Linked DNA regions of Homo sapiens. The protein of the gene in region 3 interacts with the protein of the main gene of each other region in a pairwise test. Each region holds a gene or a part of one and is shown on either strand. Other genes may lie near its edges. The genes, in order: PPIL6, BAZ2B and BIVM.

Region 1 (7,110 bases), on a different chromosome or scaffold from region 3:
TCAGGCCCTCACCCCCGACTCTAACTTCTTTTTTTTTTTTTTTTTTGAGACAGTCTTACTCTGTCGCCAGGCTGGAGTACAGTGGCGCAATCTCGGCTCACTGCAACCTCTGCCTCCCAGGTTCAAGCGATTCTCCTGCCTCAGCCTCCCGAGCAGCCGGGATTACAGGCATCTGCCACCATGCGTGGCTAACTTTTTGTATTTTTAGTAGAGACGGGGTTTTACCATGTTGGCCAGGATGGTCTCGATCTCTTTTTTTTTTTTTTTTTTTCCTGAGACGGAGTCTCACCCTGTCACCAAGTCTGTAGTGCAGTGGTGCGATCTCCGCTCACTGCAAGCTCCGCCTCCCGGGTTGACACCATTCTGCCTCAGTCTCCCAAGTAGCTGGGACTACAGGCGCCTGCCACCACGCCCGGCTAATTTTTTGTATTTTTTTTAGTAGAGATGAGGTTTCACCGTGTTAGCCAGGATGGTCTCGATCGCTTGACCTCGTGATCGGCCCACCTCGGACTCCCAAAGTGCTTCTCTACTCTAACTTCTCAATGTCTTGAGTTTGTCCACTTATCACCTGCTCATCTGTACTGCTGATGCTTTAGAGCAGGACTTCATTTATGGCCTGTTATAACCATAGCTTCTTAAGTGGTCTTGCTACTTCCTTTTCATTCTTTGCCAATTCATTCCTCACTTCTGCTAAAGAGATTTTTTCTTCAAAATGAGAAGCTGGTTATGTCGCTCACAATGTAAAATTCTCCCATGGCCCCCATCACCTTTGCGTGAGGTTCCTGCTCAGCAGCATGGCACCCGCAGTCCATTGGGAGTTGGACCCTTGCTGACCCTCTTATCCGGCCTCCACCCTTTCCATTCTCCCCTAAGTACCAAGCTCTGCCCAGAACAGATGACTTGTAGATAAGATGCTCTCTTACTCCTCAGGGCCTCTCTGCGAAACCTCTTCACTCTTCCTAAAACTGATTTGACTCATTGTGATTTCTAGCTTCTCTATCTGGCTAACTTCTACGTGACATTTCACTCCTCAGCTCACCTTCTCATGAAACTTTCCATGACCCCCTCCCACCTTACAAGTCTCTTAAAATGAAATAATTCCCCCTCCCCCAAACCCCTTCTACAATGGGTGCACGTGAATGGAGAGCTTACAGGCTTGTTTTGTGATATTCTTTCCCTATGAGCCCACTGGGCCAGCCATGCTCTGTGGATTGCTACAGTCTTTCCTGAAGGACATTCCCAGTGTCATCCATCTGAGAGAGCGGCAGGTTCATGTACCTGGAAACTGGGCTTGGAAGGAGTGCCTGTCTTGGATCAGAGAGGAATATTCTTTATCTCTCTGGACCTTGCTAACCATGTCTGGGCTTCCAAAAGCTCAGACACACCTGGGGATACTGAGAGATGATAGGGAAGAGGCAGCCCTACAACTGGGAAGGAAGGTATCCCTGAAGGAGTTCTATTTCATTAGTTTAACTAGATTATCTAGTTGCCTATTATGTTTTACATTTCTGCTTCTCCCTTAGCACTCTGTAAGGTCTTATTTAAATATTCCAGCCCAGCCCCAACTGTGATTTGGAGACTTTGTTTTTAATTTGGAGATTTAAGGAATACACTGAGATCATACTTGAGGCAGAATAGCAGAATAGAAGGAGGGCAGTGCCTCCCTGAGGACAGAGTGGTGATAACAAAAATTAGAGATTTCTCCAAGAGGAAGGTGGATCATAGAGAACAGGAACCATCAAAAGGAGACCGAGTGCTCTCCACTCCATTGCCGCCCTGTAACGCTCTGTGTTCGCTTTGGTGAAGGGAGTTGGAGGGTGTTTTCTTACCCATCTCCCAATGCACCCTGTACACAGTTTGCATGGCCCATGTCTCACTGTCACATAGCTATTGGCTATTTGACCTTGTTTTCATAACATACTCTAAGCTCGCTGAAGAGCAGGGATTGTACCTTGTCGCTCTTTTTCCCCAGCACTGAGTACCATGAATGGCATACTGCAGGTGCCTAAAGAAATTCTGCTTGAATGAGTTGGGAAAACAGCAGAAGTGAAGGCTGAACAAAGGATGTGGGGCCAGAGGACCTGGAATGCCACTCTAGACTTCAGGCTGTGCAGATGTGGAGGTGGTAATGGAGGCACTAAATGTTTTAAAGTAGTCATGTTTGTGTTTGAGAAAGGTACCTTTAGCTGAGATATAAAAGATCACCAGGAAGTTGGTAGAGGACAGAGACTGTCAGCAACATGACAGAGATTTAAATGGTCCAAGAAATGTTATTTGGATTTAAATGATTCAAGAAATGTTATTTGGATTTAAAACTTTTTTTTTTTTTTTTAAATGGTGTCTCACCCTGTCGTCAGACTGGAGTGCAGTGGTGCGATCTCGGCTCACTGCAACCTCCCCCTGCTGGGTTCAAGCAATTCTCCTGCCTCAGCCTCCTGAGTAGCTGGGACTACAGGTGTGTGCCACCATGCCCAGCTAATTTTTGTATTTTTAGGAGAGATGGGGTTTCACCATGTTGGCCAGGATGGTCTTGAACTCCTGACCTCATGATCTACCCGCCTTGGCCTCCCAAAGTGCTGGGATTACAGGCGTGAGCCACCGCGTCCAGCCTTAAAACTAATTTAATAATGCATTTTCGAAATCAGAATACAATTTATTGGGGACCAGGGAAAACTTAAGACAAGTCATTGTTTTACGTTATGCATCTATTAATGTAATGTTATCTCTTTAAAGATATCCTATGGATGAAAATACACTTTCTATTTTTTCAACCTGGAAGTATCACAGAAAGCATTACACTAAAGGAATTACTGTGGTTAAAATGAACACTGGCATGACATTCCAGGTGCTGGAGAGTCAATAATTATCCCTATGGAGTGGGTGGAATAAATCTAACAGTTATTCAGAAAAATACAAACACTTTACATTATCTCAGGGAAGAAGAAGTAAGCCCTGCCTCATATTCACTCAGTAATTAAAGAGAGAGATGAAACACTGGAGTGATGAAAAGTATTTCTATCATCCATTTTAGGTCCACATGGCTTTAAGCATCTTGCTAATAATATTCTAATAATAACTATTACCTGTGATGTTTTCATATTTAAAATCGTTCAGTAAAAAAAGTTATATGTAACTTGAATAGTTTTCATCTACCTCTTCATGATGTCCATGGACAATTATTGAAATGACTTCACCTCTTCACTTCTACATATTAGTATATTATTAAGCACTGTGGTATGATTCATAGTAATAAAGAATTGATAATATCCTTAAGGCTGAAGATTTGATAGATGGATAGATAGAGACACAGAAAGAACATTATTGTGACTATGCCTAAATGGTTTCTGTTTTTATTTTTTTATTTTGTCTTATATATTTTTTGAGGTAGGGTCTCATTCTGTTGCCCAGGCTGGAGTGCAGTGGCACAATCATGGCTCCCAGGCTCAAGCAATCCTCCCACCGAAACTTCTTCAGTAGCTGGGACTACAGGCACACACCACCACACCCAGCTAATTTTTATTTATTTATTTATTTATTTATTTATTTAAGACAGAGTCTTGCTCTGTCGCCCAGGATGGAGTGCAGTGGCACGATCTCGGCTCACTGCAACCTCTGCCTCCTGGGTTCAAGCAATTATCCTGCCTCAGCCTCCCGAGTAGCCGGGACTACAGGTGCATGCCACCACGCCTGGCTAATTTTTTGTATTTTTAGTGGAGATGGGGTTTCGCCATGTTGGCCAGGCTGGTCTGGAACTTCTGCCCTCGAGTGATCTGCCTGCCTCAGCCTCCCAAAGTGCTGGGATTACAGGTGTGAGCCACTGCACCCGGCCTATTTATTTATTTTTGAGACAGAGTCTTGCTGTGTCACCCCGGCTGGAGTGCAGTGGCATGATCTTGGCTCACTGCAACCACCTCCCAGGTTCATGTGATTCTCCTGCCTCAGCCTCCGGAGTGGCTGGAATTACAGGCACATGCCATCATGCCTGACTAATTTTTGTATTTTTAGTAGAGACGGGGTTTTACCATGTTGGGCAGGCTGCTCTGGAACTCCTGGCCTTAAGTAATTCACCTGCCTTGGCCTGCCAAAGTGCTGAGATTACAGGCATGAGCCACCATGCCAAGCCAGATAATTTTTAATCTTTTTGTAGAGATGGGGTCTCGCTATGTTGCCCAGGCTGGTCTTGAACTCCTGGGCTCAAGCAATCTCCCACCTCAGCCTCCAAAAGTGCTGGGATTATATGCCTGAGCCACTGTGTCTGGCCAGTTTCTGTGTTTTTATAGATAGCAAACTTCTTGCAAAATATTTCTTAAATACTTTTGTCTCTATTTGTATTATTTTTGCATTTAAGCCCTATTTTTAGCTACCTATACACTATATACAATACTTATCCAAATATTTTTAAATGACATTTTTACAGGTGTGAATATTATATAAATAGATCTACAATATACATACCCAAAAGCCACAAATTTTCTATCTAGATAAGGAGTTGCTTGCAGTGTGATATAGAATTGTGACCCGTTGCTGTGACGGCCTTTGTTGGCCATTCCAAGTACTCCTCTTTTATTATGAGGAACTGAAAAGTTTTCATCTAGGAAAGACAATAATCAGTAGGTCATTAGCACATTTCTATTATCTCAATTTATTGTAACATATAAGGAACAAATAGAACCCTTGGTAACACTCTCAATCATATTTATCAATGGATTCCAAATTGTAAATATTCTATTCATTTCAAATTATTTTCAAACATGCAAATGGGCTGTTTAAAAAAACCTGTAAAACCTTATTAGAACTATTGGAACATTCAGCTTTAGTTTGTCTTTACCATAAACAAGTGTGCTAAGAAAATTAATAATGTACAAGGAAATATATACAGTATTCTAATCAAGAATAAAGGTCAGCAAACTTTCTCGTGCTGTTTTGGTATTTCTTTCAAACTACCACCATACTCATTAAAAACACCTCCTCTGAGAAGTCTTTTGTGGACCTGACCTTTCCCCCGAACCCCCCAAGCATCTTACACATCGTTCTTGGACAGTCCTTATAACACTCGATGTAATTATTGGTTTACATGGCATTTCTTCTCTAGTAGGTGAAGGCAGGAACCTTGTCTCCTCATGGCTTTAGCTCCAGGCTTCTCAGCACATTAATTGGCATAAATGTGGCCCTAAATGTTTGGGCAGATTTCCATTCCATGTACTTTCCCATTCCATGTAGTTTAAAAATGTTGATGATGAAAGGAAATTAATTGTTTATTTTTAGTGATCTTCAAATAAAATTTTTTTTTTGTTTTTTGAGAGGGAGTCTCGCTCTGTCGCCCAGGCTGGAGTGCAGTGGTGCGATCTCAGCTCACTGCAAGCTCCGCCTCCCGGGTTCACGCCATTCTCCTGCCTCAGCCTCCCGAGTAGCTGGGACTACAGGCGCCCGCCACCATGCCCGGCTAATTTTTTTTTTTTTTTTTTTTTTTGTATTTTTAGTAGAGACAGGGTTTCACTGTGTTGGCCAGGATGGTCTCAATCTCCTGACCTCATGATCCGCCTGCCTCGGCCTCCCAAACTGCTGGGATTACAGGCGTAAGCCACCGTGCCTGGCCAATCTTCAAATAAATTTTAATCTGAAACCTTATTTGGATTGACCAAGATTTTGTGGAAAGCAATAGCTTTTTTAGTGTAAGATTTAGAAGTAAAAAGAGTTGTATGGTGATTATTAGGCTACCAATTTGAAGACGTACCATTCCCAGCTTTGCCTCCAAGTTCAAATACACAGAAGGAAATAATGGATGAGAAATTCAGTGAATTTTTTCATTCAATAACTTCATAAATTTCTGAGAATAACTGAGAAATATGAATATTAACTGTCTATAAGATTTTATTAAACTGCAACTGCTGTTATTAAGTTTCAAAACTAAGCAAACTAAGTGATTAAGCCATATCTGGGTAGTTACTTTCAGCCTGGTAAGTTGAAAACTGAATAAAGACCCCTGAAACCTTATGAAATGCTGATGAGGCATGTTTGTACAAATGAGTCTATATAATTACGCTGATGCTCCTTATTCATTTCAGTGAAATAAAGAAAAAAACTCATAATTTCACAGAAAATTGCATGAAATGGAAATCTGCCCACAGCAAAGACTCAGAGAGTTTTTCTTTTTTTTTTTTGTGAGATGGAGTCTCGCTCTGTTGCCCAGGCTGGAGTGCAGTGGCGCGGTCTTGGTTCACTGCAAGCTGCGCCTCGGGTTCATGCCATTCTCCTGCCTCAGCCTCCCTTAGTAGCTGGAACTACAAGCGCCCACCACCACGCCCGGCTAATTTTTTGTATTTTTAGTGGAAACAGGGTTTCACCGTGTTTGCTAGGATGGTCTCTATCTCGTGACCTCGTGATCTACCCGCCTCGGCCTCCCAAAGTGCTGGGATTACAGGCGTGAGCCACCGCGCCCGGCCCAGATTCAGAGAGTTTTAACAGAATGGTATTTGTCATTGCTTTTACATATTCTGATTTATTTTTCTTAAATTCTTTAAAAATTGGGAAAGAAAATTGATGAGTTGTAACATTTTTATAAAAAATTCTGTGATTGTGGGATAATTTTAAAGCAGTTAATCATAATACCTATCAAAGAAACTGCTACCTATGTGAAAACCCATGTATAAAACAGTGCAAAAAGTGCCTAGAGCAGCCAGGCACAGTGCCTCATGCCTGTAATCCCAGCACTTTGGGAGGCCAAGGTGGGTGGGTCGCTTGAGGCCAGGAGTTCGAGACCAGTCTGGCCAACATGGCAAAACCCCGTCTCCACTAAAAACACAAAAATTAGCTGGGTGTGGTGGTGCATGCCTGTAATCCCAGCCACTTAGGAGGCTTAGGCACAAGAATCGCTTGAACCCAGGAGGCGGAGGTTGCAGTGAACTGAGATTGCGCCAATGCACTCCAGCCTGGATGACAGAGAAAGACTCGGTCTCAAGAAAAAAAAAAAGTGCCTAGAGCCCTCTCATCTCCTGAACACATTTATTTAGGACAGCATGGAAATCCTTAGAGACAATTTGAGAACCATTGCTATAAAGGGACAGAATAAATTATATTTTTAAAAGGTGCAGGTAGTCCCTGACTTAGAAA
Region 2 (7,110 bases), on a different chromosome or scaffold from region 3:
ATGTTGCTACATAATTCTAAGTTTATTCCAACATATATAATGATTAAGAAGAATATGTGTACATGGTTTTCTTTTTAAGGAAAAAGAGCGGTTGAAACAAGAAAAACGTGATGAGAAAAGATTAAATAAAGAGCGTAAACTAGAGCAGCGAAGATTAGAATTAGAAATGGCAAAGGAACTAAAGAAGCCTAATGAAGACATGTGCTTAGCAGACCAAAAGGTAATTTATACGTCATGTACACCATTTCATTCATAAGTTTAATTTTTCCAGTTTTCTTACCTGATTTCTTTGCCAGAGCTGCTATTGTGAAAGCCTTTCATTTTTAACTATAGCAGTGAATTTCCAACTCTAGGTCAATTTGCCTTTCCTAGATAGCTAGAAGTAAACCTCTCTGGAGCTCTTGTGCTGGTAATGGCGGTTTTTTTGTTTGTTTGTTTGGTTGGTTGGTTGGTTGGTTGGTTGGTTGGTTGTTTTCAGACAGGGTCTTACTCTGTCATTTAGGCTGGAGAGAGGGCAGTGGCAGGATTATAGCTCACTGAAGCCTCAACTTCTCGTTCCCAGGCTCAAGTGGTCCTCTCACCTCAGTCTTCTGAGTTGCTGGGACCACAGGCGCTTGCCACCATGCCTGGCTAGTTTTTTGGGTTTTTGTTATTTTAATTTTTTGTAGCGGCAGACTCTTATGTTGTCCTGGCTGGTCTTGAACTCCTGGGCTCAAGTGATACAGCCACCTCAGCCTCCCAAAGTTCTGGGATTCCAGGCACAGAAAAATCTCAACTCCTCCCCACATCCCTATGGATATTTAAATAAATGAGGATTTATAATCTGTGACCTCCTTCAGTGCTTTAGGTGGCAAACCTTTATTGAACATGTTTACTACATGCTAGGACTGTGCTAAGCACTTATTTGAATTTTCTCATTTAATCCTCAATACAATCTTGTGGAGTTAGTATTTCTTCCCATTTATACATGAGAAAACTGAGACACAAAGAGGTTAAGGAACTTGCCCAAGATTACACAACTAATAAATGGCGATTTGGATTCAAACTCCAGTTTGTTAAACTCCAGAGCCTATACTGTTTATCATCCTGAAAGCCAAGAAACTGTGTCCAACCAAAGCACCTCATATGTGTTTTGTCTTCCATAGTGCTTCACAGACATGTAATGTTGCTGAAATACATAAAAGTATAAATTTAGAAACATTGCTGTAATCTTGGCAACCAGCATAATTTCATATACTTTTGAGTAAAAATCAATGATGTTTTGACTATAGTTAAGAAGATGGTACTTCTAGAAAAATATCAATAATGCATTTCATCTCTATATTATTATACTTAATTAGTAGGATATGTATTTACTTATATGCAATATTCAAATGATTTGCAAATAATGATTATCTCTTGATTTATGTAAGCTCTTTTTTTATTTTATTTTATTATTATTATACTTTAAGTTTTAGGGTACATGTGCACAATGTGCAGGTTAGTTACATATGTATACATGTGCCCTGCTGGTGTGCTGCACCCATTAACTCAATTATGTAAGCTCTTTTCTAAAGTGCTTAAAGAAAACTTTTAGTACTCTAGAATGGATTGAACTATATTAATATTCTATTTATTTACTTAGCATAAATGCTTCTAAATAAAAATGAGAGTATACTTACTAGTTGTAGTCATTTGGATATTTAAATTTTCCTAAGCAGAGAATGGGTATATAAATTAGTTAACACATTTAATAAGCTCATAGTGATCAAGCTTTTTAAATCCTAAGTGAGCTTCATTTTCTTGTATCTTTTATTTTCATTTAAATTCATATGTACTATATCAAATATGTAAGTCCATTTTAAGCCATATTTTTAATAGCTCAGCTTTGCTACATAAATTTTTAGAATTACATAGAAATGTATATGTTTCCTGTGGTTCAAGAAAAAGGGAGAATGAGAATTAACTGGCTTTCAAGAAGAATATAAAATATTTGTATGAGATGAGCTATTATCTATAGTTTTGTGTTTCCACACAGTATTAACAGAAAAAGTCTTCAATTGGTTACCTCAATAAATGCAGAGTGGAGAAATATTTTTGAACAAGGACCAATTCAGATAAATAGAAATATTTATGTCACTTTTTTTCCAATTAAAATTTAAAGTACTTTTTTAGGCTCTCATTAACAGGCAAAATGTTTTTAATTCAGATTACCTATTTATTGAAATTTTAAAATGTTGATGACAACTGGTACTGCAATTAAGTCATTAAAATGTTAATATGTGAGCATATTTGAGAAATAACAACAGAGATAGCTAATTTTAATACTGAAGCTAATACTTGCCTAAATACAGGGAAACCTAAAGACCTTTAGTTGCATTATAACTGGGTTTATGTACAGGGTCATGGATTCTAGTTATGTGGACCTAGTTATTTATCTGCATTCATTAGCCATAGATGGTACCACTTTCTCCAACCATAGAGCCCACAGATGCATGCTGTTTGTTTCTAAGCTACAAAAAAAGTGTGATTTTTAAATGTCATCATCATTAGAAGAAATTGGTGCACATGCCCCTATAAGTATGTCCATGGTAAAGTACTTTTGAAATGTTTATATTTTATTTAATTTTTGCTCCAGTTATATAATCCATGTTTTGTTAATATGGATATGTCAGTTGATTGAATATGCAAGTTGATTAAAATTAATGTCTCTTTTGCAAAGATCTAAGTTCATAATTGAGTTCAACCAAAATTTATTAATGGTTGCTTACTTGTATGAAGATACTTCAAGACACTATGCTTAGTTCCATGGGGGTTACAGAAATGCCCCCAGAGAATTTAGCATCCCAAAGGAAGCTACTGGTACAATACAAGAGGGGAAAAAAGGTAGCAGCTTATTTTACTTTAGAAGATACGAAATCATGGCTTTTAAAAAATTAAGCTGTTTTTATTTTATTTGTATTTCATTTTATTTTCAGCCTTTGCCAGAGTTGCCTCGTATTCCAGGACTTGTTCTCTCTGGAAGTACATTTTCAGACTGTCTCATGGTGGTGCAGTTCTTACGAAACTTTGGTAAAGTTTTGGGCTTTGATGTGAATATTGATGTTCCAAACCTGAGTGTTCTTCAAGAGGGATTGCTAAATATAGGGGACAGCATGGGTGAAGTACAAGACTTGCTTGTGAGGCTCCTCTCAGCTGCTGTATGTGATCCAGGTCTAATAACAGGATACAAGGTAAAAAAAAACAAAATATAAAATGTTTTAAATTTGTACTGTCAGTGCATTGGTAGATAGCTTTAGCATATTAGCAGAAGATTATATAGATTGATCTAATTTTTCCACATAATGTCTCACAAAGTTAACTGTAGATTTGTGTCAGGTTACACTTCATACAAAGAAAACCTGGTTATAAAGCTTAAGGAATGTAGACCATTCTCAAGTTATTCTTTTTTCCTCTAGCTGTAGGCAAAGACCAAGGTGATTTAAGGAAATCCTTAAGCGATATTCATCAACAACAGAATTCATAATTCATAAGGCAACTAGAACTTGTATGTGCCTTCTGATATTATACCTTGTTCTCTCTCAATCACTGTGAATAACTGAAGCTAATCAAGGCACCTACAGACCAGCACGTTAAGACCCTGTGCTGCTCAGTGGATCCTCAATAAGTTCATGTTTATCTTAATTCCAAATACAGTATACATTCCAGGGAGCTTTGCTCTAGATAATATTGTGGAGAGAGAACCTCCCAGATGCACCTGTTTTTCTTCTATCTCCCTCAGTGTTTCCCTATTTATTATCCCCAGCCAGTAAAACCTATAACACTTTAAGGGTAGAAAACAATACTGTTTTTTAACCTCCCCACTCTGTCATTCCTGATAAAATATCCAGATGAAACTTGGGGAAAGGTTGGTGTCGCTTTTATAGTCATGGAAGGCTTGATAGGTAATTTAAAACTTCTGCTACCCATGAATTTGCATACTCTTCTCCCTGCCTGACTTGGAACCAAGGATTTGAAGCGGGGAAAGAAAGAAACAAATACTTGAATATTTGTCTGTCTTCTATTGACTATTTTTGTGTCTCTTTCATTAAAAAAAAAGTGAATAAAGCTCTTGTCAGTAGTATCTAAATCAAATAATATGAGGATTTTTAATCTTATTGTTTTTATGGTATAAATGGTTGTGAGTAATACTGATAAAAATGCCAAACTTTTATAGGCTAAAACAGCTCTTGGAGAACATTTGCTGAATGTTGGTGTGAATCGAGACAATGTTTCCGAGATTTTACAGATATTTATGGAAGCCCACTGTGGACAAACTGAGCTTACTGAAAGTCTGAAGACCAAAGCTTTTCAGGCTCACACTCCAGCACAGAAAGCTTCAGTCCTGGCTTTCCTGATCAATGAACTGGCATGCAGCAAGAGTGTGGTCAGGTGAGCATATGCCCAGGCTTTTCCGTGATTTTTCCATTTTGAATTTTTCTAATCAAAAAGTAATACAAATTGATTATAGAAAATTGGAAAGTTACAGACTAGCACAAAGAAGAAAATTAAAATTGTACTTATCTCAGTATTTAGAGATGGCCACTAATAATATTTTCATGTATTTCTTTGTAGTGTATTGAAAAAAAATTTGGATTATACTGTGTGTCTGTAATACGTGGTCTTTGTCACCTGTTTTGTTTAATAATTCTGTTAATTCTTTATACATAACTTTTTTTATATTTTTAGTTGCTATGGTACCAGAATGTGGTACCACCACAAGAATACAGAATTTTTTTTTCCTTCACGTCTTTTAAGGACAGATGACTACCTGATTTTGCTTAGTAGCCATTCACAGAATTACGTAGCCACTTTTTATTTTGTTGTATGCTAATAGAACCATAGAGTATTTATTTATCAGTGTATTAATTTATACTTTTTTAAAGCATTTGATCCTATTTAAAAGTCAGAGTTCTCACTCTAGTACTTGTTACTAGTAAAATACTAATACCAACATGTACTCTAGTATTCAGGATTTCTGAACAAATTCATGTTCATCTTGTCCTTGTTATTCATTATTTTACAGATTTTTAACAACTTTTAGTCCTTTACCTTTCTAGAAAAAGGATCAATCCAAATATTCGGGGTCATGCATTTCTACCAGTGTGGAAATTTTAAGTTTTCTGTACCTATCTTAGCTATGATATTGTATTAATGTAATTTTTTGTTTGTTTCTGCTATTCACTGACAGTCATCCTAAAAAATATAATAATATTCACGTCTTACAATTTTATGAAAGAATAATTTCATTTAAGCATGAGCATGATAACAAATAGTAATGCTAAGTGGCACTTATTCAAAACACATACACCCAAATTCAATGTAAATGGTACACTATGGTTTTTGCCTTAGAAGGGAAAAAGCATCCCTATTTGACTTTACTGGTAAAGTAAAACAGAATGGTAAAGAATATCATAATATTCTTAGTTACTGTTTGGTTGTTTATATATATACACTTAGTGTATATGCATATGTATGTATGTGCACTTATGTAAATATCCATGTGTGTTCTGGTATCCTGCTTTGATTTTGGAAATTATCACATCTTAAAATACCTGCAACAAAACTTGGAATATTGTCTTTCTAAGGCAATTGATGCATAGTTTCTTTCTTGGTTTAAGATAGAAACCACAGTGAATTTTCTAATACTAATGTTGTATCCATTGAAGAAGTTATCACTTTTCAACATCTGTGTATACATATATAAACACATACATATATGAACGTGTATATGCATGAGGTCAGTTGTATCATTTTTACTTATTCAAAAATGCATTAATTTACGTATCAAGTTTATTGCATATCAAATTAATGCATTGCATAAATTGATTAATTTACACTTTTTAATAAATTCTTGCATTGGCAGTGAAATCGACAAGAACATTGATTATATGTCAAACTTGAGGAGAGATAAATGGGTGGTAGAAGGTAAACTCCGCAAGTAAGTCCTGTTTTATTAAAGTTAATGTACTGTTTTCTTTTTCTACAAATTCCCAGTAAAGCATATGAATTGCAAAGATAGAATTTAAACTTTTATTGTCTAAAGAAAAGATAATGCTCAATTTAGATGGGATATAAAATTAATAAAACTCAGGGGCAGAATTTGCAATGGACAAAAGATATAATGAGATTCATTGAGCTTATATTCTTCATACTTAGAAGAAAGTCATTTTCTCTTTTTCTTTTAAACAAGTCAAGCAATTACATTTTCTAAGATTGTGGTTGCTATTAAGTTGCTTTTATCACAAACAGAATGTTTGGAACTGTAACTTGTTTTCTTAATTGCTTTCTAATTAAAATTTGCTTTTACGGAATCTAGCTAAACTTATTCAGCATTAAAACTTAATTATCTTCCTGCCAGAAAATATCAGGCAGAAATTACTCCTATGTTAAGAGGTTAGTTTCTTTGTAGTAATTTGAATTGAAATTTATTCAGTCAGTTAGTATGGGATCAGAAATTATTACTCAGCCATTGTTAGAATTCTTCTTTTCAACTTTCATCATTTTTTTTAATGAGTCTAATTCCAAAGAGATATCTAGAATAACTCTTGAAAGTGAATGCATCCTGTAATTTATGGAAACATTTCTTAAGTTTCCTAATTCTAATTTTTTTTAACATTGGTATATCGCTTAACACAAAAGAAATGCCATAAGGTATTTTTGCATACAACTCATGTTTTGCTCTTTTAAAAGTATATTGAGAAGTCTTTTTTTCCTTGTCATCACTTTTCATAATATTTAAAGGCTCAGAATCATTCATGCTAAGAAAACAGGCAAAAGAGACACTTCAGGTGGCATTGATCTGGGAGAAGAGCAGCATCCCTTGGGCACACCCACTCCAGGACGCAAGCGAAGAAGGAAGGGAGGAGACAGTGATTATGACGATGATGATGACGATGACAGTGATGACCAAGGGGATGAAGATGATGAGGATGAAGAAGATAAAGAAGACAAAAAAGGAAAAAAGACTGATATCTGTGAAGATGAGGTAATGAAATTTAGGTTGATTTTAAGACAACTAGAACTGCATAACATATTTTTAAAAACAGAATTTGGAGTCAGATGGATTCGGATTTGAATTCAGTTTTGACA
Region 3 (7,683 bases):
TTCTAACCTGACCTGTGCAGAGATATTAGAAAATAAAGTTTGCTACATATATATGATCACAGAACTCCTCTGCCTGAAAGCCTCTGCTCTTAGAACAAAAGGCCAACTCCTGATGGTCCCTAGATCTATCTGGTTAGCTCCATCTCATTCCTTTCCCCCACCCCCCAAGCTCCACATTACTTTTTGGTTCTCCCAATACTGTCTCCCTTACTTAGCTCATTCCCATTCATCTTTCCAATGTCAGCTCAAATGTCACTTTCTGGGGGAAACCTTCTTGGCTTCTCAAACTAGGCCAGGTGACCCGGTACAGACTCTAGTACCTTCCTCACACAGGTCTTACCAGGTGGCAATTTTACACTTACTTCTGTGCATATCTGTTCATATGATCAACGTCTGCATCCTGCAAGTCTGGTTTTCCAGATTATTGTATCCCCAGGGCCTAGGATTTGTAGACGTCTCATTCAACAGATAATTTTTAAGTGTTTGCATCATGCCAGGCATTACTGTAGGCCCTCATTTTGATTGATTGCGGTTCCCTCTTCCAGGCAAGTGAGGTGTTGCTATATTAAGATTTACTAAGCCGGCGTGGTGGCTCACACCTGTAATCCCAGCACTTTGGGAGGCTGAGGCGGGTGGATCATCTGAGGTCAGGAGTTTGAGGCCAGCCTGGCCAACATGGTGAGACCCGTTTCTACTAAAAAAAAATAAAAAATAAAAAAATACAAAATTAGCCGTGCATGGTGGCGCATGCGTGTAGGCCCAGCTACTCAGGAGGCAAGGCTGGAGAATCGCTGAACACCAGAGGTGGAGGTTACAGTTGCACCATTGCACTCCAGCCTGGGCGATCAGAGCAAAACTCCGTCTCAAAAAAAAAAAAAAAAAAATTTACTACTAAGAATGACTGCAGGACCTCAGGCTCAACTAATAGCTTACTCATAAAATCATGTCATAAGCAATAGAAATATGGTTTGCTCGTATGCAAAGCAAAAATTTATAAAATGGCAAGTTTAAAAAGCACCGCCAGAGTCATGATTGTTCAAAGTCACTGAACGAAGTGTTCTGTAAAATAAACGTCCATTTGTAAAGCCAATCTTCATCGCCTAGGTTGTAGTCTTTTCAGGTTATATTTTGTCTGTATTCTCAAGTATCAAGTTTATGAGAGAACCAAACATCTCTAAAAACCTCTTCAGTAAAGCCTTTTCGTATAACAAAATACCCTGATCGATATCCTGTATAGAAGGCAACTGAGGAGCAGGGGCATTCCGGTGACCTCGTAAGGGTCGAATATGCGCGGGAGGGCGAAACCAGAGGCGCATAGCCCCCGGCCGAGCTAATGCCACCCTTCCCACCCGGTGTCCTCCCGCGCCCTCCAGGCCCCTTCCTCCCCTTCAGACCTGCGGGTCCCCAGAGCCGAGGCGCCAGCCTGTCAAAAGATACCGGGAGTCCTCCGCGCCTGGCGCCAGCCTCCAGCCCGCGCCCCTGGGGAGGCCGGGAGCGTTTCCACCACCGTCCTCTGACAAGCTCGCCGCTCGGCCGGGCTCCGAGGCCGCCGGGACGGAGTAGACAGTCGCGCAGGCCAAGCCCCGCCGCGCAGAACCAGTGCGCGCGGAGGCGACGCGGGCAGAGAGGAAGGAGCGCGGCTGCGCTCCCTGCCCGTGGCCAACCCAGCCCGCGCCTCCGCGCGTGTCGCGGGCACCCCGAGTCCCCAGCCCGCAGAGCCCAAGGGCCGCCGAGGCCTCCTCGCCCCTACTCCCTCCTCTACCTTCCCTCACCGGCCGGAAGACGAGGCTCTCCGCCAGGGGGAGCGCGCCGAGGCCCGGGGGTGACCGCCTCGAACATGCTTGCCCCGGGCCCCGGGGACGCTGTTGGTGTTAAAGGGGGCCCACGGGCAATTGCTGCATCCGGGCTAAGAGCTGGGGCTCCGATTCGACTGTTTGAGTAAACGAGTCGGTATCATTAATAATGACAATTGCACAAAAGAAAATAGGAAAGAAACCCCCTTTCCTGGCGCCGAACCAGGCCCGCCTTGGCTCGGAGCCACCGGCTCTTCTGGGTTTTCGGGGCAGCTGGCAAGAGGGAGGCAGGCAGAGGAGGCGGCTCCGGGTCCGACTGCCAAGCTGACCAGGGCGGTGAGCCCGTGACTCCTGGCGGCGGCCCAGACCCGGGTGCTGGCGTGCAGGGGAAGGCGACGGCCGCTGCGCGCTGGTTCCCGGACCCTGCCCAGCGTGGCGTGGAGACCGACGGCCGCACAGGGGTCACCGGTATCCACATGGACACCTCCTAATCGAGCTTTGTTCACCAGAGGGCTAGGCCCTTCTTTCCCTGGCGCTTCTCTTCCCCCCGCGACACAGCTCTTCCCCCTACTCCTTCCCGGGAGAGCGCGCACCCATGCAGTGGCCTCCATCTGGACGCCACGGGGCTCGGAGAGGCGATGACCCCTGGCAGCCCAGGCCGGTATCGAATTAAGTAAAAATTTTGAATGCCCAGGTGGCTGCGCGTAGAGCGGCAGCAGGCCGGGCTGGCGGCGCCCAGGTGCCCAGCGGAGGGCCAGGCGCTCAGAGCGCACAGCCGGCCGCCACCTCGGCCCCTGCCCCCCGCCCCGGGGTACCTCTGGCCTGTCGGGTGGGGTCGGGTCGCTGCGGCCGCGGCGGAACCCGGCTCCGGACCTGGATCACAGCATCCAGCGCGCGGCCGGCGAGGCGCCTCCTGTTACCCTGGGGCCGGCGTCCCTCGTCCCATCGGAGCGAGCGAGGATGCTGCGGTGCCCGGCGACAGGTCGTCGGATAGCATTGACAGCACCTTCCTTTCAAGGTGCTTTATGCCTGCCCTCTCCACGTGCGGAGGGCAGGGTGACCAACGCAAAAACCTGAGCTGCGCCTCCAGACCCGTGCGCCCCTTTGATGGGCATCTGTGGTGTTTATCTGTCCCCCGAAAGCGGTGACCGAGAAGTAAATAAATGGGCGAGAGGTGGTAAAATCCTGGCAGTATTTCCGCTCGTCCTGTCGCGAACTACATATCCCAGGGAGCCCGGGGCGCCGGGACGCGTGTCCACCCCGCCATCCACTTGGAGAAGGCGTTACTGAGCCTGGCCCGACGCACGGGCCAATCCCCTCGCCCTACACCTTGGCTGGAACCTGAGACGGATTCGCTCCCAAATGATGCTCCAGTGGCAGGAGCAACTCAAGTTCATCATTGTCCTGAGAGAGAGGAGCAGCGCGGTTCTCGGCCGGGACAGCAGAACGCCAGGGGACCCTCACCTGGGCGCGCCGGGGCACGGGCTTTGATTGTCCTGGGGTCGCGGAGACCCGCGCGCCTGCCCTGCACGCCGGGCGGCAACCTTTGCAGTCGCGTTGGCTGCTGCGATCGGCCGGCGGGTCCCTGCCGAAGGCTCGGCTGCTTCTGTCCACCTCTTACACTTCTTCATTTATCGGTGGATCATTTCGAGAGTCCGTCTTGTAAATGTTTGGCACTTTGCTACTTTATTGCTTCTTTCTGGCGACAGTTCCAGCACTCGCCGAGACCGGCGGAGAAAGGCAGCTGAGCCCGGAGAAGAGCGAAATATGGGGACCCGGGCTAAAAGCAGACGTCGTCCTTCCCGCCCGCTATTTCTATATTCAGGCAGTGGATACATCAGGGAATAAGTAAGTCGAGAAACGGCTCCTTACCTATTTTGGATGGCGGTTAAATCTGTTTCTCCCTTTAAGATTTTTCTTTCCAAGAACTCGTTTCTCCACAGCAGTTTATATTCCAGGATATTTGGTTACCCATTTTTCTCTGTAGCTGTAGAAATTGTTCCGAATTATAATATATGCAATATAATGTATTGTATATAACATATAAAATAATCTCCTAGCAATTTTGATTCAGATTCCCACATTATCAGGGCAAGACAAAGTCCCTCCACTTTGCTGGAAATACTGTTTCTAACTACTTTTCGCATAAGCTATTATAAGGGATTTAAACCTAGTTGTTAGAGACTTGATGGGCTTCATCTTTCTCTGGTGCGGCCCTCAATTTTCAAGGAGACATCTGCAGGTAAGCATGTTTTGAAACTGAAAAAGAAAAATGAAGTACTATTTGAAACTTCAGAGTTCGGAAGGAAAGTATCGAAGTATTAATCTCCTATATGATTGTAACAAATATTTTGTTCCAATGAATTTAATACTTTAACATCATACTTAAAACTTATTTTTATAATTCCTATACTTCTGAAATGATTGTCTCTATTATTGGTGGATGCTGACTGTGTGTATTTCATACAGAAAAAAATACTGGAATAAAAGGTTGTCAAGTAAAAGGCAGGTTGTAAATTTTGTTATTTGGCAAAAGATGATACACTACCTACTACTTTGCTTTTGCCCATGGCTGAGCGTGAGTTTTTTTTTTTTAAGACAGGGTTTCACTTCCTAGCCTAGTCTGGAGTGCAGTGGTGCAATCACAGCTCACTGTACCCTCAACCTCCCAGGCTGAAGCTATCCTCCCACCTCAGCCTCCCTAGTAGTTGGGACTACAGGCGTGTGCCACCTCGCCTGGCTATTTGTTTTTTATTATTATTATTATTATTTGTAGAGACAGGATCTCACCTTGTTGCCCAGGCTGATCTCGAACTCCTGGCCTCAAGCAGTCTTCCCTCCTTGGCCTCCCAAGATGTTGAGATAGTAGGCATGGGCCACAGTGCCAGGCCTGAGCGTGATTTATAATACTGATATTGTAAAGATTCATTGGCAGAGATTTTTCAAAATAAGATCATTATCTTTGGGAGCATCATTTGATCACAAATATCCAGATGTGATAGCATGAAATAAGTTAGTAAGAATATTTTTCCATATGGAATGCATGAGTATGTTCTGTGCTTATATAGATTAATAGTCTTAACATACTCCATTGTGACTGTTTAATGAAACTGTTTCATGTTATCTTGGCCATTGTCATCCTCATTTTTTTAAATCTCTGATCCATCATATTCATTCTGGTACTAAAAGCATAAGAGAAGAAGAAGCAATCATATGTTAGAGGAAGAATGTGGAGGAGAATAATCAAGTTTCCAGACTGAAGAGCATAACCTTTGTGTGTTTGTTCGTTAAAATCTGTTTATCTCCCCCATTGCCTTTTCATCACAGATTCACATCTTCTCCAGGCGAAAAGGTCTTCCAGGTGAAAGTCTCAGCACCAGAGGAGCAATTCACTAGAGTTGGAGTCCAGGTTTTAGACCGAAAAGATGGGTCCTTCATAGTAAGATACAGAATGTATGCAAGCTACAAAAATCTGAAGGTGGAAATTAAATTCCAAGGGCAACATGTGGCCAAATCCCCATATATTTTAAAAGGTAATTTGGAATATAATTTTATAACAGCAGTATTTGAATAAAATAATATATGTTATTCCATCAACAAAAACAACTTGGCATGATATATATATATATATATATATTTTTTTTTTTTTTTTTACTGAAAGAAGAAAAATAAAGGCTTTCTACTTGAAAGCTAAGTTATGAGTCCTGGTAAAAAGACATTCAAGATTTGAACGGAAATTCTGATTTGCTAAAGAGCAAGGAACATATTAGTAGAGAATTTACTCCGCGAAGACATACATTAGCAAGAATAATCAAGCTGTGTTCATGCTCATATATGATACTTTCTTAATTGGAAATATATGACTTAAGTAACTGATAAGTGTTATTGAAATTAGGTAGATCACTTCAGGAAGGGAGATAGCTCGAAAGACAAGGAGCGCACTGGTGGTTGTTTTTTTGTCTTTGTTCCAATGCCATTTTCCCAGAGAAATTCTCTGACATTTATTTATTTATTTATTTATTTATTTTTTTTTTTTTTTTTTTGAGGCAGAGTCTCGCTCTGTCACAAGGCTGGAGTGCAATGGCGCAGTCTTGGCTCACTGCAAGCTCCGCCTTCCGGGTTCAAGCGATTATCCTGCCTTAGCCTCCCATGTAGCTGGGATTACAGGCACGCACCACCATGCCAGGCTAATTTTTGTATTTTTAGTAGAGACAGGATTTCACCATGTTGACCAGGATGGTTTCGATCTCTTGACCTCATGATCTGCCTGCCTCAGTCTCCCAAAGTGCTGGGATTACAGGTGTGAGCCACCATGCTCGGCCATTCTGATGTTTCTTATATAGGATGAGAGTACAGTTTTATTACCTAGAGCCATCTCCTTCCCTCTTACAGGCGACAGTACCACAAGACAGTAGGGAAGCAGTGTATATACAAAGGCAGAAATCTTGTCCCCCCCTTAACAACCCCAAGAAAAGTAAACTTTTTTTTTTTTATTTTTGTGAACTCTGCAGAGAAGTAAGAAAAGGTAAACACTTTTCAAGAGTGTCTAGGTTCCTTTCCTACATTCTGCCAGTACAGCCTGGTACAGTATCACCCACTAAACCTTAAAAAGATATTCCATTGTCAGCCACTGCCTGGGTTAGGTGGGATCTGAGAATTATAAAAAGGAATAACAGTAAAAACCTCAGTGCAGACTGTAATTAATTTGTTATAAAATTAGTGAAGTGGACTGTTTTGAGAATTACTTTTGCTTCTTTTTGTTGCCGTTGTTGTTGAGACAGGGTCTCGCTCTGTTGCCCAGGCTGGAGTGCAGTGGTGCAATCACTGCTTACTGCAGCCTCGACCTCCTGGGTTCAAGCAATCCTCCCACCTCAGCTGCATGAGTAGCTGGGACTACAGGCACTCACCACCATGCCCCACTAATTTTTGTATTTTTTGTAGAAACAGGGTTTTGCCATGTTGCTCAGACTGGTCCCGAACCCTGGAGCTCAAGTGATCTGCCCACCTCAGTCTCCCAAAGTGCTAGGATTACAGGCGTGAGCCACTGTACCCAGCTACTTTTGCTTTTTTTTTTTTTTTTTTTTTTGAGACGATGTCTCGCTCTGTCACTAGCCTAGAGTGCAGTGGTGCAATCTCGGCTCACTGCAAGCTCTGCCTCCCGGGTTCAAGCGATTCTGCTGCCTCAGCCACCCAAATAGCTGAGACTACAGGGACGCGCCACAACACCTGGCTAATTTTTGTATTTTTAGTAGAGACGGGGTTTCACCATGTTGACCAGGATGGTCTCGATCTCCTGACCTCGTGATCCGCCCGCCTCAGCCTCCCAAAGTGCTGGGATTACAGGCATGAGCCAAGAACCCAGCCTACTTTTCCTCCTTAATAATTCTTAAAAAAAAAAAAAAAAAGAATAGCAGTTCCTTGTTTATTTTTGCTGTTATTGATGATTTACTTATTGAGAAAAGTACCTTAGACACTTTAAGAACCTGTTTGTATAACAGACCATCAAAATAGTAAATCATATCACTTTTGTCTTTCATTAAAATAGGTATGCTCCTCTGATACCCTTTTACCAGTATTTGGTTATTCTTCAGTCTGCAAAACATAAGGAATAATGAGCTGTAATATTACCATAGACATAAACCAAGTATCTGTTGTCTTTCTTTTATTTTTTGAAACAAGAGTCTCACTCTGTCCCCCAAGCTGGAGCACAGTGGCACAATCTCCGCTCACTGCAACCTTCACCTCCCAGATTCAAGCTATTGTCATGCCTCAGCCTCCTGAGTAGCTGAGATTTCAGGCACACACCACCATACCCAGCTAAACTTTTTTGTATTTTTAGTAGAGATGGGGTTTCAACATGTTGGCCAGGCTGGTCTCAAACTCCTGACCT

The links.
Region 1: the proteins of BIVM (region 3) and PPIL6 interact in binary tests that used the Homo sapiens proteins (3 or more experiments, as listed by UniProt).
Region 2: the proteins of BIVM (region 3) and BAZ2B interact in binary tests that used the Homo sapiens proteins (3 or more experiments, as listed by UniProt).

What each region holds. Positions count from the first base shown.
Region 1 is NC_000006.12:109,395,580-109,402,689, forward strand, and holds part of PPIL6 (probable inactive peptidyl-prolyl cis-trans isomerase-like 6), read right to left. Parts: intron 4,592-7,110; coding exon 4,456-4,591; intron 1-4,455. UniProt on the Homo sapiens protein: Probable inactive PPIase with no peptidyl-prolyl cis-trans isomerase activity.
Region 2 is NC_000002.12:159,382,455-159,389,564, reverse strand, and holds part of BAZ2B (bromodomain adjacent to zinc finger domain protein 2B), read left to right. Parts: intron 1-79; coding exon 80-220; intron 221-2,957; coding exon 2,958-3,212; intron 3,213-4,195; coding exon 4,196-4,410; intron 4,411-5,884; coding exon 5,885-5,959; intron 5,960-6,762; coding exon 6,763-7,006; intron 7,007-7,110. UniProt on the Homo sapiens protein: Regulatory subunit of the ATP-dependent BRF-1 and BRF-5 ISWI chromatin remodeling complexes, which form ordered nucleosome arrays on chromatin and facilitate access to DNA during DNA-templated processes such as DNA replication, transcription, and repair.
Region 3 is NC_000013.11:102,794,447-102,802,129, reverse strand, and holds the start of BIVM (basic immunoglobulin-like variable motif-containing protein), read right to left. Parts: upstream 3,012-7,683; 5' UTR 2,609-3,011; intron 1-2,608. Other genes in the region: POGLUT2 (protein O-glucosyltransferase 2 isoform 1 precursor), read left to right, coding at 3,460-3,641, 5,121-5,326.